Linked DNA regions of Homo sapiens: region 2 is linked to region 1. Evidence: fine-mapped expression QTL. Tissue or cell type: whole blood. Region 1 holds a variant in brackets; the other region holds the start of a gene. All regions are shown on one strand. Distances are between the middles of the regions.

Region 1 (8,252 bases):
AAGGATATTTGTGTTGGGTATAGAATTCTAGATTGACCTACTTTCTTTTTCAGTTCTACTGTCTTCTGCCTTGAATAATTTCTGACCACACATCTGCTGTCATTCTTATCTTTGTTCCTCTCTATGTCGTGTGTCTTTTTTTTCCTTTTTGTTTTCTTTCTGGTTACTTTTATGAGTGTATCTTTATTAAGCAATCTGATTACAATGTGCCTTGATGTAATTATCTTCATTTTTCTTTTTCTTTTTTTTGAGATGGAGTCTTGCTCTGTCGCCAGGCTGGAGTGCAGTGGTGCAATCTCGGCTCACTGCAACCTCCTCCTCATGGGTTCAAGCGATTCTCCTGCTTCAGCCTCCTGAGTAACTGGGACTACGGGCACACACCACCACGCCCAGCTAATTTTTGTATTTTTAGGAGAGACGGGGTTTGACCATGTTTGTCGATGGTCTCGATCTCTTGACATTGTGATCCGCCCACCTCAGCCTCCCAAAGTGCTGAGATTACAGGCATGAGCCACCACGCCTGACCAATTCTCTTCATTCTTATTCCTTATATTTGTTTGTATTCTGTTGAGCTTCTTGAGTCATGGGTTGAGTTTTCATCAAATTTGGACGTTTTCCCACCATTATTTCTTCAAATATTTTTTTCTGTCTTTCTCTCTGTTCTTTTGAGACTTCAATTAAACATATTAGGGTCTGTTATATTGTCCCACATGCCAGTGATGCTCTGAGTATTACCTTTTGTCAATGTTTTTTCTTTCTTTCTTCTTCTTTTTTTTTTTCTTTTGAGACAGGGTCTCACTCTGTCACCCAAGCTAGAGTGCAGTGATGGAATCTTGGCTCAACACAACCTATGCCGTTGAGCTCATGTGATCCTCCCGTCTCAGCCTCCTGAGTAGCTGGGACCACAGGCACATGCCACCACTCCTGGCTAATTTTTGTATTTTTTGTAGAGACAGGGTTTCACCATATTGCCCAGGGTGGAATATTTTATCTTTATGTGCTTAATTTTAGATAGTTTTATTGCTCTAGCTTCAATTCACTGATCATTTCTTCTGCACTGTCTAATCTACTATTAATCCTATCTACCTAGCTTTTCATTTTTGATTTTGTAGTTGATATTTTGATTTTTCATCCCTAGAGGTGCTACTGGATCTTCTTATACTTTCCATTTCTCTTCCCATCATCCTGATGTGTTCATTTACATGCTTGATCAAATGAAACATATTTATAAAAGTTATATTCGGGCTGTGCACAGTGGCTCAAGCCTGTAATCCCAGCACTTTGGGAGGCCGAGATGGGCAGATCATGAAGTCGGGAGTTTGAGACCAGCCTGGTCAACATGGCGAAACCCCATCTCTACTAAAAAATACAAAAATTAGCCAGGCATGGTGGCATGCACCTGTAATCCCAGCTACTCCGGAGGCTGAGGCAGGAGAATCGCTTGAACCTGGGAGGCAAAGGTTGCAGTGAGCCGAGATCGTGCCACTGCACTCCAGCCTGGGTAACAAAGTGAGATTCTGTTACAAAAAAAAAAAAGTTATTTTCATGTCCTTTCCCTGATAATTCCATCACATCTTTGTCATTGCTAGGTCTATTTCTATTGACCACTTTTTTTTTGTTAGTGGGTCAGTCACATTTCCTTCTTTGTCTAGTAATTTTTTGCTGGATGTCTCACACTGCAAACGTTACCATTTTTCAATGCATAATTTTGTCATATTCTTTTAAAGAGGACTCCAGTGAACCCTGGTCCTGTGTTGGCTCTATCCTGTTTGTCTTACAGCTCCCTCTGCAGTTGTTCTCTTCTGGTCTCACAGGGTTGCCCTGTGCATGAGCAGATTGATATTCACCGAGATTCCAGGAGGCCTCTATCGAGATTTCTGGAGATCTTTCTCTTTCCAGCTTCTTCCTTTTAGGATTCTGTCCCACAGATTCTAGAAACCTTAGAACTTGGTGTCTCCAAATTCTGATCTCTGTTCCCTCAACTTAGTAATCTCGCCAGTCTCCGTTTGGGTTCTCCCTCCCTGTGGTAGAATTCTCTTCAGGTAGAAAGGCTAGGTAATGAACGATAGGGCTCACTCGGTTAGTCTTCTTTTTCCAAGGAATCACAGTCCACCATTGCCTGGTCCCTATATTTTATCCAGCTCCTAGTTGTTTACAGTGGGAGAATAATTCCAGGCTGTCCTGCTCACTCTCGACTGGAAGCAGAAGTCTCATCATCTTTTCGCAAGATGACATCATGGTAGATCAGAGGAAGAAAGAGACCAGCCACCCACCCTCTTTCAACCATATCCCTCTTGCCTACCATACCTGTACCCCATCTTTCCCTAACTGCCATTCCTGGTCTCTAATTCAGCCACACCCTCCTCCTCCTTCCCCTTCTCCTTTTTCTCCTCCTCCCCCTTCTCCTCCTCCTCCTCCTCCCTCTTCTCTCTCTCTTTGTCTCTCTCCCTCTCTCTTTCTGGGACTTCTTATAGAATGTACCCCCACCTCCATTGCTACCACTAACTTCAAGGCCTGGTTCAAAGCCCCCTGCCCTTGGCATAAAGAGCCAAGACTCTGAAACTGGACAGAGCAGAAGCTGAACACCAGCCTCACCTGCCAAGGGCCTGTGTGTCCCTGAGAAAGCACCTCAGTCTCTCTCTGAAATCTCCCCAGGGTTGGGGAGAGGATCAGAGCACCTGACACAGTGCCCGGCGCGAAACAGGTGCTTGGTCAGTGTTCCTCCCAACTCTACCATCACGATGTCACATGTGGCTGGCTGTTCTCTTCCTCCACCTTCTCATGGGTGATTTGAAATAGTCTCTCATCAGTTTATGGGGAGTGTGTTGAAATCTTCACACTCACACGGGAAGTTCAGCAAGGACAACAACCCAGACTTTTCCATTTTGCACCTTCTAATATGCTGAGCACCAGCAGGCCCTCCGTCTATGCTGGCTGAACGAATCCCTCTCTCTCCTATACCCGCTTCGGTGGCTCAGGTCAGGTCCTTGTATCCCGCCACGTTCAGGCAGGTTCTCACATACTCTGCTGCTCACAGCCATCACCGTTCGCTGCCAGAATCATCTTCCTGAAAGGTAGCAGGGCTCAGGTCAACTGCCTGCTCCAAAGCTTTCAATGGCTGTCCACTGTCTACAAAATGGAGTCAGAACTGTCTCATATGGCTTTTACTCCTCCCCATTTCAGATCCCAAATAACCTTCCAGGCTTCTTTGTTACTACTGCACCCAACTCTCCAGTCAGAGGTTCTCCACTACCCCGTCTATGTTCACCCCCAGACCTTTGTTCACAAGCCACTGCCACTGCCCCTCCCCTACTGACCTCAGGATCGAAATCCAACGTGCCCTTCACGGCCCAGCTCAGTACTCCTCCTCCTGAGGGGCTTTTCTCTCCACTCTCCCAGTTCGTGCGCCACAGAGGCCCCCGGGGAGGCTCGAGGACCGCCTTTCCATCACCGTGGGGTGAGCCCCACCCTCGCACCGAGAAGAAAGGAAGGGAGTGGACCTACTGTCTGCGGGATGGGAGTCGGGACACTGACTGTGTGGGAATGCACCTATGCAGGGCTGTCCTCGGGGAGAGGGGCTTCGTGTACTTCACACAGTGCTTCATGAAGGGGTGAGTCAGGCGCCATCTCTCCTTTTTCCAAAAGGAAAAATGAGCCACACCACAGATTAAGTCAATTACACTCAGCCAGAGGAAATATCCTCCGAAGATCTTCACTCTCAAATCAGCCTCTCAATGGAGCCCTGCAGCACTGGAAAGGAGCCCTCCCATTTCCGCCTCTGACTTCCTTTCCACAAAGCAAAGGAGCAGAAGCCACAGGTCCCAGGAAACCGCACAGCTCCCGGCTCCAGGTCTCTGGGGAGACAACCCTTGCCTGGGGAAGCCTGGGAGGTTCGGGGAAGCAAACAGAATTCCTAAGACTGGGAGAACAAAAGCAAAATTTACCACGCAACCAACAGCAGCTCAGCAGTGGGAGGTCTGCAGCCTGGGGATAGCTCCAGTTCACACTGGAAACCCTTTCACCGCCAGAGAACTCCAGCGCGGACGCCAAGCACGACCACGGCAGGTGACCTGCCCTCCCTCCAGCTCCACCACCATTCTCCCTGTTCTCACCACACAACCACGCACTCAATAGCCTCCAAACACTCCACTGTCCCCTCATGCCCCTTGTCACCCTGAATCCCGGTGTCACTGGCTTCCAATGTCCCCCTACCCCTCCCACCTTTTCCCAG[C/T]TCACCTGTCTCTACCTCTGCTCCCTAGGCAGAGCCACTAGGCAGTTGCCAACTGCCTAGGCAACTCCCTAGGCAGCTGACCCACAGAGGCCCAGGGAGGTCAGCTGCGCTGCCCAGGGCCCCAGGCATCCAACTCTGGGCCACGCTTCCCTCCTCCTGGCACACCGCCTCCTTCTCCCCAAACCACCATCCGCTCTTCTGCCCTGTGAGGTGATGACTGTATTGATTTTGATGCCTTCTTCAATCCCAATAAATAAACCATTCTCTTGCGACCAAAGCCCATGTCTGTCTAAGAGCGGGACCTCACTCTCGGCTGGAATGCTGCTGTCACCCCAGCCACCTCTGCCACCAGCCTGCCAGGCAAAACTGTCCCTGGATTTCCTGCCCAGTAGGCCCTTGAAAGATGCCTTCTTGCTGCTGCAGATGGAAGCAAGCAGAAGCAGCTTGCTAGACCAGCCCTGACTCTTCCTCAGCTCGAGAGGTGGCTGTGGCTCAAGGAGGCCACCAGTGTGGACCTCGAGTGGCACCACCCAGCTGATGGAGGCAGGGCTGCAGACGGCAGAGGCATCTCATCCCCTTGAGAGGAAACTACAGTTACCATAGAGGGGTGTGTAGAGCTTTGCTTCCCCGATTTGCATAAGCTTATATAAAGAATGTATCTGTCCTAAATGTGCATAGAGTCACATAAATATGCAATTCACAGAAAGATCTCTGGAAGTATCCACACCAAACATTTGGCAATGGGTACCTATGAGAAGGGGAGCAAGGGAAGGAAGGAGGACTTTCACTTTTATTCTTTGTACTCCTGTCTAGGTTGAATTATTTTCTTACAATAGTGCTTCATAATATAGAAGAAAACTGATATTCGTTTAAGAGAAGCCTCAATGTTAATAGCAGTTATCCTTCAGAAATAATATTATGGGTAATATTTTTTCATACTACATAGTATTTTCCAGGCTTTCCACAGTGAATACATTTGTTACTTTTATGTTAGATTGAATCATATGAAATGAAGTTGCCTTTTTTTTTTTCTTTTTGAGACAGAGTCTTGCTCTGTCACCCAGGCTGGAGTGCAGTGGCGAAATCTCGACTCACTGCAACCTCCGCCTCCCAGGTTCAAGCAATTCTCCTGTCTCAGCCTCCTGAGTAGCTGGGATTACAGGTGTGCGCCACCACCCAGGAGGCGAAGGTTGCAGTGAGCTGAGATCATGCCACTGCACTCCAGCCTGGGCAAAAGAGCCAGACTCTGTCTCAAAAAAAAAAAAAATAAATAAAAAATTTTTTAAAAACGTAAATGTTTATGTAGACAATAGCTCTATCATTAAGGCCTGACATATAAACTTTCCAGAAATGGGGGGGCCATACCCCCAATCTTAAATGTATAGCTACAGAATTTCTACCTGCAGTGTTTGTGTCCCGCAGCTAGGCAGGATGGACAAGGTTCTGTGAGCAGCCTGGGCAAACAGGAGAAGGCAGTCCTGAGCAATGCGCTTTAGTCTACACCTAGAGAAAGTGCCCAGGACCATGTAAGGTCTGGAAACCATGTCGCCTGAGGACTTCTTGAAAAAGGGAGATGGGCGAGGCTGAAGAGGAGATCCAGGGAGAGCAACATAGCTGAATTCAAACACTGGAAGGGCTGCTGTGTAGAAAACAAGAAGTAGACATGCATTACTTCCTGTGGACAAATTAGAACCAGGAAAGGGTGGCTCATGCCTGTAATCCCAGCAGTTTGGGAGGCCGAGACGGGTGGATCACCTGAGGTCAGGAGTTCAAGACCAGCCTGGCCAACATGGTGAAACCCCATCTCTACTAAAAATACAAAAATCAGCTGGGCGTGGTAGTGGGCACCTGTAATCCCAGCTACTTGAGAGGCTGAGGCAGGAGAATCGCTTGAACTCAGGAGGCAGAGGTTGCAGTGAGCCGAGATCATGCCATTGCACTCCAGCCTGGGCGACAACAGTGAGACTCCGTCTCAAAAAAAAGGAAAATGAAAGAACCAGGAATGGAAGCAGCGAGGAGGGAGCAGGTCAGAGCCGAGCAGGAAGGGGCAGGGGCACAGGATAGCGCTGGAGTCCCCAGAGCCGAGACACTGGATCCACCAAGATAGTCCAGTCCCTCCAGAAATCAACTGACGTTACACGTGCCGCAGGCAAGCTCCTCTCTAGGAAGGCCATGCATTTATTTCTGCTCCAACTTTCGGAGTATTTTCCAAGAATCACTTATGTTTAGTCCCAAACCTGTTTATGCCAGTTGTTTTTGGTATTATATTTACATAACTTAATTAAATATAACCTACACAGATAAAATATGGATGTGAAAGAAAGCGCGTTGTTTCTAAAAAAAGTAAAGTGAGTATTTTGAACATTTTTGACAAATATAAGTAGCTAGAAGAAATTGCTGTTGAATTCAAGGTAGGCAAGACAGTAACAATTTGGCCAAAAAGAAAGAACAGTAATAAAAATGTAGGGGGATTCTGTACCCAGGTTCCTTCCAAGTGACTTTTAATTCTTACTCCACTTTAAGGAAACTGGAAATGACACACAACACATCCCAGCTGCAAAAGAAGGCCATAGGAGGGGGTGGTGGCTAACACCGGTGGTCCTAGCTACTCAGGAGGTCAAGGTGGGAGGATCACTTGAACCCAGGAGCTCAAGCCCAACCTGGGCAACATAGCAAGACCTCATCTTTAAAAAAAAAAAAAAGAAGAAGGAAAAAGAAAAAGGCCACAAGGAATACCAAACAGAGTACCTATATAAAAAGGAAAGAACTTTCCCTTCAACAAAAGATTGGCAAATGACTGTATAGCTAAATGTTTTCAATTAAAACAAACTATTTAAAATACATATAAATGTATATATGTATGCACAATTTTTGTGATTCCTGTATTTTACTGACTTTTTATAAAACCTACTGAATTTTAGTAGATGGCACACATTTTAACTCTGTGTGTGTGTGTGTGTGTGTGTGTGTGTGTGTGTGTGTGTATTTGGTTTTTTTTTTTTTTTTTGAGACAGGGTCTCACTCTGTTACCCAGGTTGGAGTGCAGTGTTGTGATCATGGCTCACTGCAGCCTCAACCTCCTGGGCTCAAGCGATCCTCCTGCCTCAGTCTCCCTAGTGTCTGGGACCACAAGTGTGTGCCACCACGCCTGGCTAATTTTTTAATTCTGTGTAAAGATGAGGTCTCACTATTTTGCCCAGTCTAGTCTCGAATTCCTGGGCTCAAGCGATCCTCCCACTTTGGCCTCCCAAAGTGTTGAGATTATAGACGTGAGCCACCTTGCCCAGCCTTAGGTGTATATTTTGATGAATATGGACAAATATGTACAGCTGTGTGACTACTTCTCCAAGCAAGATACGAAAGACTGCCATCATCCCAACATGTGCCATGGTGCCCCATCCAAGTCAACTTCTCTCCCAGCCCCGTGGAGTGTCTGTTAAGGTACCATAGCTCTTACCACACCATAGTTGGCCCTTGAACAACAGGGTTTGAACCGCACAGGTCCACTTGCAGATTTTCTTTCACCTCGGCAACCCCTGAGACAGCAAAACCAACCCCTTCTCTTTCTCCTCCTCCTCAGCTACTCAACGTGAAGATGCAGATGAAGACCTTTTGATGATCCACCTCCACTTAATGAATAGTCAATATATTTTCCTGGCCAGGCGCAGTGGCTCGTGCCTGTAATCCCAGCACTTTGGGAGGCCGCGGTGGGTGGATCACCTGAGGGCAGGAGTTCGAGACCAGCCTGGCCAGCATGGTGAAACCCCGTCTCTACTAAAAACACAAAAAATTAGCCGAGTGTTGTGGCACATATTTGTGGTCCCAGGTACTTGGGAGACTGAGGCAGGAGGATCACTTGAGCCCAAGAGGTTGAGGCTGCAGTGAGCCGTGATCACACCATAAAAATTAGCTTGGTGTGGTGGCGGGCGCCTATAGTCCCAGCCACTCAGGAGGCTGAGGCAGGAGAATCACTTGAACCCGGGAGGCGAAGATTGCAGTGAGCCAAGATCGCGCCACTGCA
Region 2 (5,702 bases), 270 kb after region 1:
CCATGGTGCCCCTAGCCCCCTGTACCCACCCCTCTCTCCAGCACTACCCTCGCACTGCCAAATTTCCCTTAACCAGGTGGGCCCCCTGAAGCCACCTCGAGGCCGGAGATCAGCTCACCGCCAACCCTACAATCATTTTGGATTTCAGAAGATCTTCTCAGCCAGCTGCTAGAAAGAAATGTAATTAGATGAGAAAAGTAATTCACATTAAAGCGTGGATGACTAAGTGTCTTGTCACTCCTAATGAACGCTGGCATTTTAAAATAAGTTTGCCTAAAATAAATCTCTCATTTGGGGAGGCGTGGGCCAAATCTTTTTTATATAGGGGAGGCTTTGGAAGTGAAAGTCCTCTGAAGCGCTGATTTCTACTTCAGGAGGCCACTTCCTTCTCTCTACCCCACCCTCGCCCTATTCCCCAGGCGCTGGGCCTGCACGGTGCTAGCTTCTGAAGGGTTGCCGGGCAAGGCTGAGCATTTTCAGAGCAGCCATTAGATGGCACTGGCAGCCAGTGACTGGCCCAGGTGCGCTTCGGCTAAAGGGGCAACTGAACGAGCTTTGGTCAACCTTGGTGTCCTCTCCTGGCTCCAAGGGACAGGCTGTTCCCATTGTACCCTGCCAGTGATCTATTCAAGTACACAGCCAGAACTTGGTGGACCAGGCAATTAGATTAAAGCTCCAAGTTGACCATAGCACATTTAGCTCTGAAAAATGCCCAGATGTTACAGTCACAGAAAAATGGTAGTTACGTATGTCACCAAATGCAAATGTAAAGTAACATATTAGTAAAGGAAAAAACAAAATCTTACAGGTCTGATAGTTCCCTCAATTATATTTCAATTCTTGTCAAAGATAACTACTCTGGAGTGATTTCCATTTGCTAGAAGCAATGACTTCAGGCCTTCCTGGAAAGCCCCAGAGAGCATTTCCCCTCCTTATGCCCTATGTGCTGTGTTGTACAATGTGGTAACATATTCACTCCCACCCTCTCAGAGCTTATATTCTGTTGCTAAACTGGTTAGATGGCTGCTATTGCTAAAACTTCAGATTCTTCCCTGAAAGATGGTCTTGTGTTTGTATTGTATATTTTGCTTATGTGTATGTGTATTTGCTTATGTGTATTTTCAGTTCTCTACAATGAACAAATAGTACCTTTTGTGTCATTTTTAAAGCAACAAATTATTGGGGAAATATCAAATGTTGTGCTTTTTTAAGTAGGGAAAGTATTATAATCCAAAAATGGAAAGCTCTGGAAAAATAGAAACTTGAAATTTGCTCATCCTGAGATTAACTTTATAGTAGAACTACACTTATTAGAACTTCATAGGTGTGAGGGGCTCTCTATGAGCTCAACAAATCATTTTGCTTGTTACTGTAAAACTGCACGCTGGCCATGACCTTTTGTAAAGATTAGAGGAGCACAGGGGCCGAGTTTTGTCCTTACACCATGACATACATGCATCGAGTCCTATAACAAAAGCATCAAAGGAACAGTAAGTCATTAAAGTGGCCATAATCTGTGCAGAGTTTATAAACTGACACACACACAAAAAAAATCCACACACACTTTTATTTTCCTTGGCTCCTTCCAGCCATTCTGTAAGAACCCTCCCTGCCCCATTTAAACATGAAGAATTTGGGGAATCCAAATGCCAAGTGGACTGTCTCTCCTTCGCTGGAAACGCCCCTTACCTGAGCCTTGATCATTCCAAATGGCTGCCCGTGCCCTCAACCCAGGATCTGCGCCATAAACCGTCCACCCCGGTTCTGTTGAGGGCATCCGAAACTAGACAGTGCGTTTCAGGATCTAGGACAGCTCCCGCCCCGGCCACCTGTTTTTAACCCCAGCTAGGTCTTGGAGAGAAGAGACCCAACTATTCTGCATTGTAATTGACCCAGTTATCATGTAATTATCATAGCGCGGCCACCTCGGGTGCGCTAAGGTGGGCAAGGAAACAAGGATTCAGGGGTCTGAATCCGAAAAAATCCGGAAGGCAGGGCGTTCATTATGACTTTTATCCTTTTCTCTGCTGCCCCGTTTCCAACATTAATTTGCGATAGCGTGTATGGAATTTGACTTTCAAGATGTGACACCTATCCTGGAAACTGGGAGCAAGAGATACTAAAAGACCGGGCTGGCCGGGGGCGGTGGCTCGCGCCTGTAATGCCAGAACTTTGGGGGGCCAAGGCGGGCGGATCACCTGTTGTCGGGAGTTTGAGACCAGCCTGACCAACATGGAGAAACTCCGTCTCTACTAAAAATACAAAAATTAGCCGGGCGTGGTGGCGCATGCCTGTAATCCCAGCTACTCGGGAGGCTGAAGCAGGAGAATCGCTTGAACCCGGGAGGCGAAGGTTGCGGTGAGCAGAGATCACCCCTTTGCTCTCCAGCATGGGCAACAAGAGCGAAACTCCGTCTCAAAAAAAAAAAAAAAGACCGGGTTGTCCCAAGACCTCCTAGCAAGCTCTCGGAGCCTCCGGACCGCCGCGAGCCCCTGGGGGAGAGGAGGCCGCCGGCTCCCTGGAGACAGCGCCTGCAGCTTCGCGGCCGTCCGCCCAGGGGCCGGACGTGGGCCCTCCAGCTCAGCTACTGGCGGCTTCTCATGCCGCAGTCGGCGCAGAAAGTTTGTCGAGAACTCGGGACCGCGGAGAGCCAGAGGCGCCCAGGTCCGCCTTCGGAGCCGGAGCCGGCCGACTGCATCGCGAGGACGGGGACAGGGGATCCCGGGGAAAGAGCACGGGTCCCCCACGCTGCGCCCTTACCTGTCTCGGGAGGCTGCTCTCTGAGGGCGGGGACGCTCGGCGGCCTCTCTCGGTCGCGGCTCTTCTTCCCCTCCTTCGCCGCCGCTTGGTCCCGCGCTCCTCTGTCCTTATATACTTGCCGAGCTCTCCTGGTGGGCGCGGGACTTTGACCTTCCCGGCAGCACAAGGAGCAGCTCCCCGGGCCAGGGGAAGGGGGGCCGCGGGGCGTGGGAGGGGGGCTTCCAGACGGGGGACGAGCGCGGGGAGACGCGCTGGAAAGGGGCTGGAATTAGCACTGTCCTGCCGAAGGCGCACCTGGCCGCTCGCCCTCAGGAAGAACTTAATTATGGATGGCGTTGGGTCTCCGCTTAGAACGGGCGGGAGGCTTAGCACCCCCGTGTGGGGCAGGCCGGGCAGCCTCTGAGGTCGTTGAGGCGAGGGTGAAGTTACCTGCGTGCGTGCTGGGGCTGGCATCTGCCTGGTTCGCATTTGGCGGTAAATATCACCGTCTGCACACGGGGAGGCCTCCGATTTCCCCATTGTTTGGAAACTGTGATGTGGAAGTCGTGGGGAATCATATTCTCTCTGTTCCACTTTGGGGAGGGGAGGAGGGAGCAGAAGTCAGGAGCCGTCTTGTGGGTGTGAAGGTGAGTTGCACTGCTCCCCTGGGGCCTGCTCTCCAAGGGCCTGGTTTAGGGGAGGCTCCCTTCCGTGTCCCAAGCCTCAAGGAAAAAGTCCTGTTAACCTAAACCATTAAATGGGGAGAGGGTGATGCTGTGAAGAGCAGCTGAAGTGCTTTCCCTGTGGCCTCTGATCCCTCCCTTTGCCATGAGCTGGCAGGGTGGTCTGGGGACTCAGACAATTTTCAACATCCCCCTTGGCCCTGGAGTTCTGGCTTGGCTTTAGTTCCAAATATCAGACCAGAGAGAAGAGTACAGCACTCAAACCAAGCTAAGAGACTCTACCTTAACCTGGAGTAAATAAACAAAACCAAATTGTGCGATGTGGTGGGTGTGGGAGGGAGTATTGGGACTAAACTGGACTTCAAATCAAGACACTTGCTTAATCTGCCAAATGCCAGAACTTTCCTGATTCCCCATGAGATGCTCTTTTGGACTCCAGGACTCTCTTGTGGATTCAGCTTTTCTGGTGACATTGGCTTTACATTCAGCAATCCTTTCCCTTTGGACCACAAGAGAGATCCAAGCTCCGTCACAGTAGACAAGGTGCTTCATCACCCGGCTTTGGCCCCTTTCCAGGGCCATTTCCCAGTTCTCCACCTTGCATCCTGGCACTTCAGCATCCACAACATTCACACTGCTAGAACATGGCTTTCTTGGGTCTCCATTGTCCAAGCTGTTCCCCCAACTAGAACATCCTTCCTCTCTCCAGCCATCCAGGAGCTTGACTCACATCAAGATGTAGCCCATCCATCAGCCCCTGTTCTCTGAAGCCCTCTTTGGCCACTTTTCCTACCAGGGGCATGAGGCATGACCTCCTCTGCCTTCCACAGAAGTCCATCCCCATCTTGTCAGTGCAAGTGGCTTGCACTAATTCACTTCTGTCCCCATTTTTTTAATCTTCCATCCACCCCACGACCACCATCAGGTTTGTAAACTCTTTCAAGCAGATGGTGGTTTTGCCTTATTTTACTTTGTGTTATTTTTGTAACTTCAGGAGGCTGCTGGTGGCAGCAGATAAAACAAACCAGGAAAAATCCAAATGGACCCAACTTCTTTAACTGGGTTCCTTCTTTCTTTTCTTCTCTCTCTCTCTCATTCTGTTTGTTTGTTTTTGAATTAGGGTCTCACTCTGTTGCCCAGGCTGGAATGCAGCAGTGTGAACACTGCTCACTGCAGCCTCCACCTCCTGGGCTCAAGTGATCCTCATGCTTCAGCCTCCTGAGTACCTGGAACCACAGATGCATGCCACCATGCCCAGCTAATTTTGGGTTTTGGTTTTTTGTTTTGTTTTTGTTTTTGTTTTTGGTAGAGACAGGGTTTCACTATGTTGCCTAGGCTGGTCTCAAGCTCCTGGGCTCAAGTAATCCACATCAGTATCCTGAAGTGCTGGGATTACAGGTGTTAGCCACCACACCCAGCCCAGTTTCTTAATTTAATGCAGCAGAACCTGCTTTGGCCTCCATGAACTGAAAGGCCATTGAACTGCATTTAGAATCACTGGGTAGGCGGGGCACAGTGGCTCACGCCTGTAATCCCAGCACTCTGGGAGGCTGAGTTGGGCAGATCACGAGGTCAAGAGATGGAGACATTCCTGGCCAAGATGGCGAAACCCCGTCTCTACTAAAAATACAAAAATTAGCCGGGCGTGGTGGCGCACACCTGTAGTCCCAGCTACTCGGGTGGCTGAGGCAGGAGAATCGCTTGAACCTGGGAGGCGGAGGTTGCGGTGAGCCGAGATCGCGCCACTGCACTCCAGCCTGGCGACACAGCAAGACTCCATCTAAAAAAAAAAAAAAATCACTGGGCAGGTTGGGGGACCAGGATCTAAAAATGGGCAGGGACACAGTGTGGCTGGAACCATGGCCAAAATCACATCCAGTGGAGAAAAAAAAAACAGACCACAAGGGGCCACAAGGGGCATGTCAAGACCACAGGCGTCTGACATAGACGTCACTTCTGTCCCCAGGATGGGACGCTGCCATTCTCACTTCAGCTAATGCCACTAGAAAGGAGTCACCACTGCCCTTGCATCCTTGTACCACTAGCTCCTCTTTGAAAGCCTAGAACAGGTGCCTTTGATTGTCTGACATGACATAATTTTTCACCTTTATTCTAGTAATGTGGTGAATTATTGCATTGTTGATTTTTTGGTGTTAAACCTACCATGGCTTCTTAGATTAAACCCAATTTGATTATGATGTATTATCCTTATACAGAAAGCACTGGACTCAATTTGCTAATATTTTATTTAAGACATTTGCATTGATGTTCATGAGATGG

Direction of the effects. Alleles are on the strand shown, and positions count from the first base shown. SD is a standard deviation of normalised expression in the study named.
In carriers of allele T in region 1, the expression in whole blood of the gene that starts at base 2,843 in region 2 tends to be higher than with C alone (large effect, 1.3 SD a copy in Lepik 2017).

Evidence for each region. PIP is the estimated chance that this variant, and not a neighbour inherited with it, causes the effect.
Region 2: POMC starts here. The variant in region 1 is fine-mapped to the expression of POMC in whole blood (TOPMed, PIP above 0.99). The same link has a PIP of 0.9 or more in lung.

The regions. Positions count from the first base shown.
Region 1 is chr2:24,894,861-24,903,112 of GRCh38, forward strand. All of the region lies in intron 2 of ADCY3 (adenylate cyclase 3), which reads right to left. Among named protein-coding and RNA genes, the nearest start is that of ADCY3, 21 kb to the right of the region's middle. RefSeq lists an enhancer at 3,876-4,795. The variant C/T (reference allele first, on the strand shown) is at 4,232.
Region 2 is chr2:25,165,738-25,171,439 of GRCh38, forward strand. It overlaps POMC (proopiomelanocortin), which reads right to left and starts at 2,843. Exons shown (of 3, transcript NM_000939.4): 1 at 2,761-2,843. RefSeq lists a promoter at 2,717-3,529, cis regulatory regions at 2,868-2,880, 2,946-3,119, 3,120-3,145 and an enhancer at 2,940-2,959.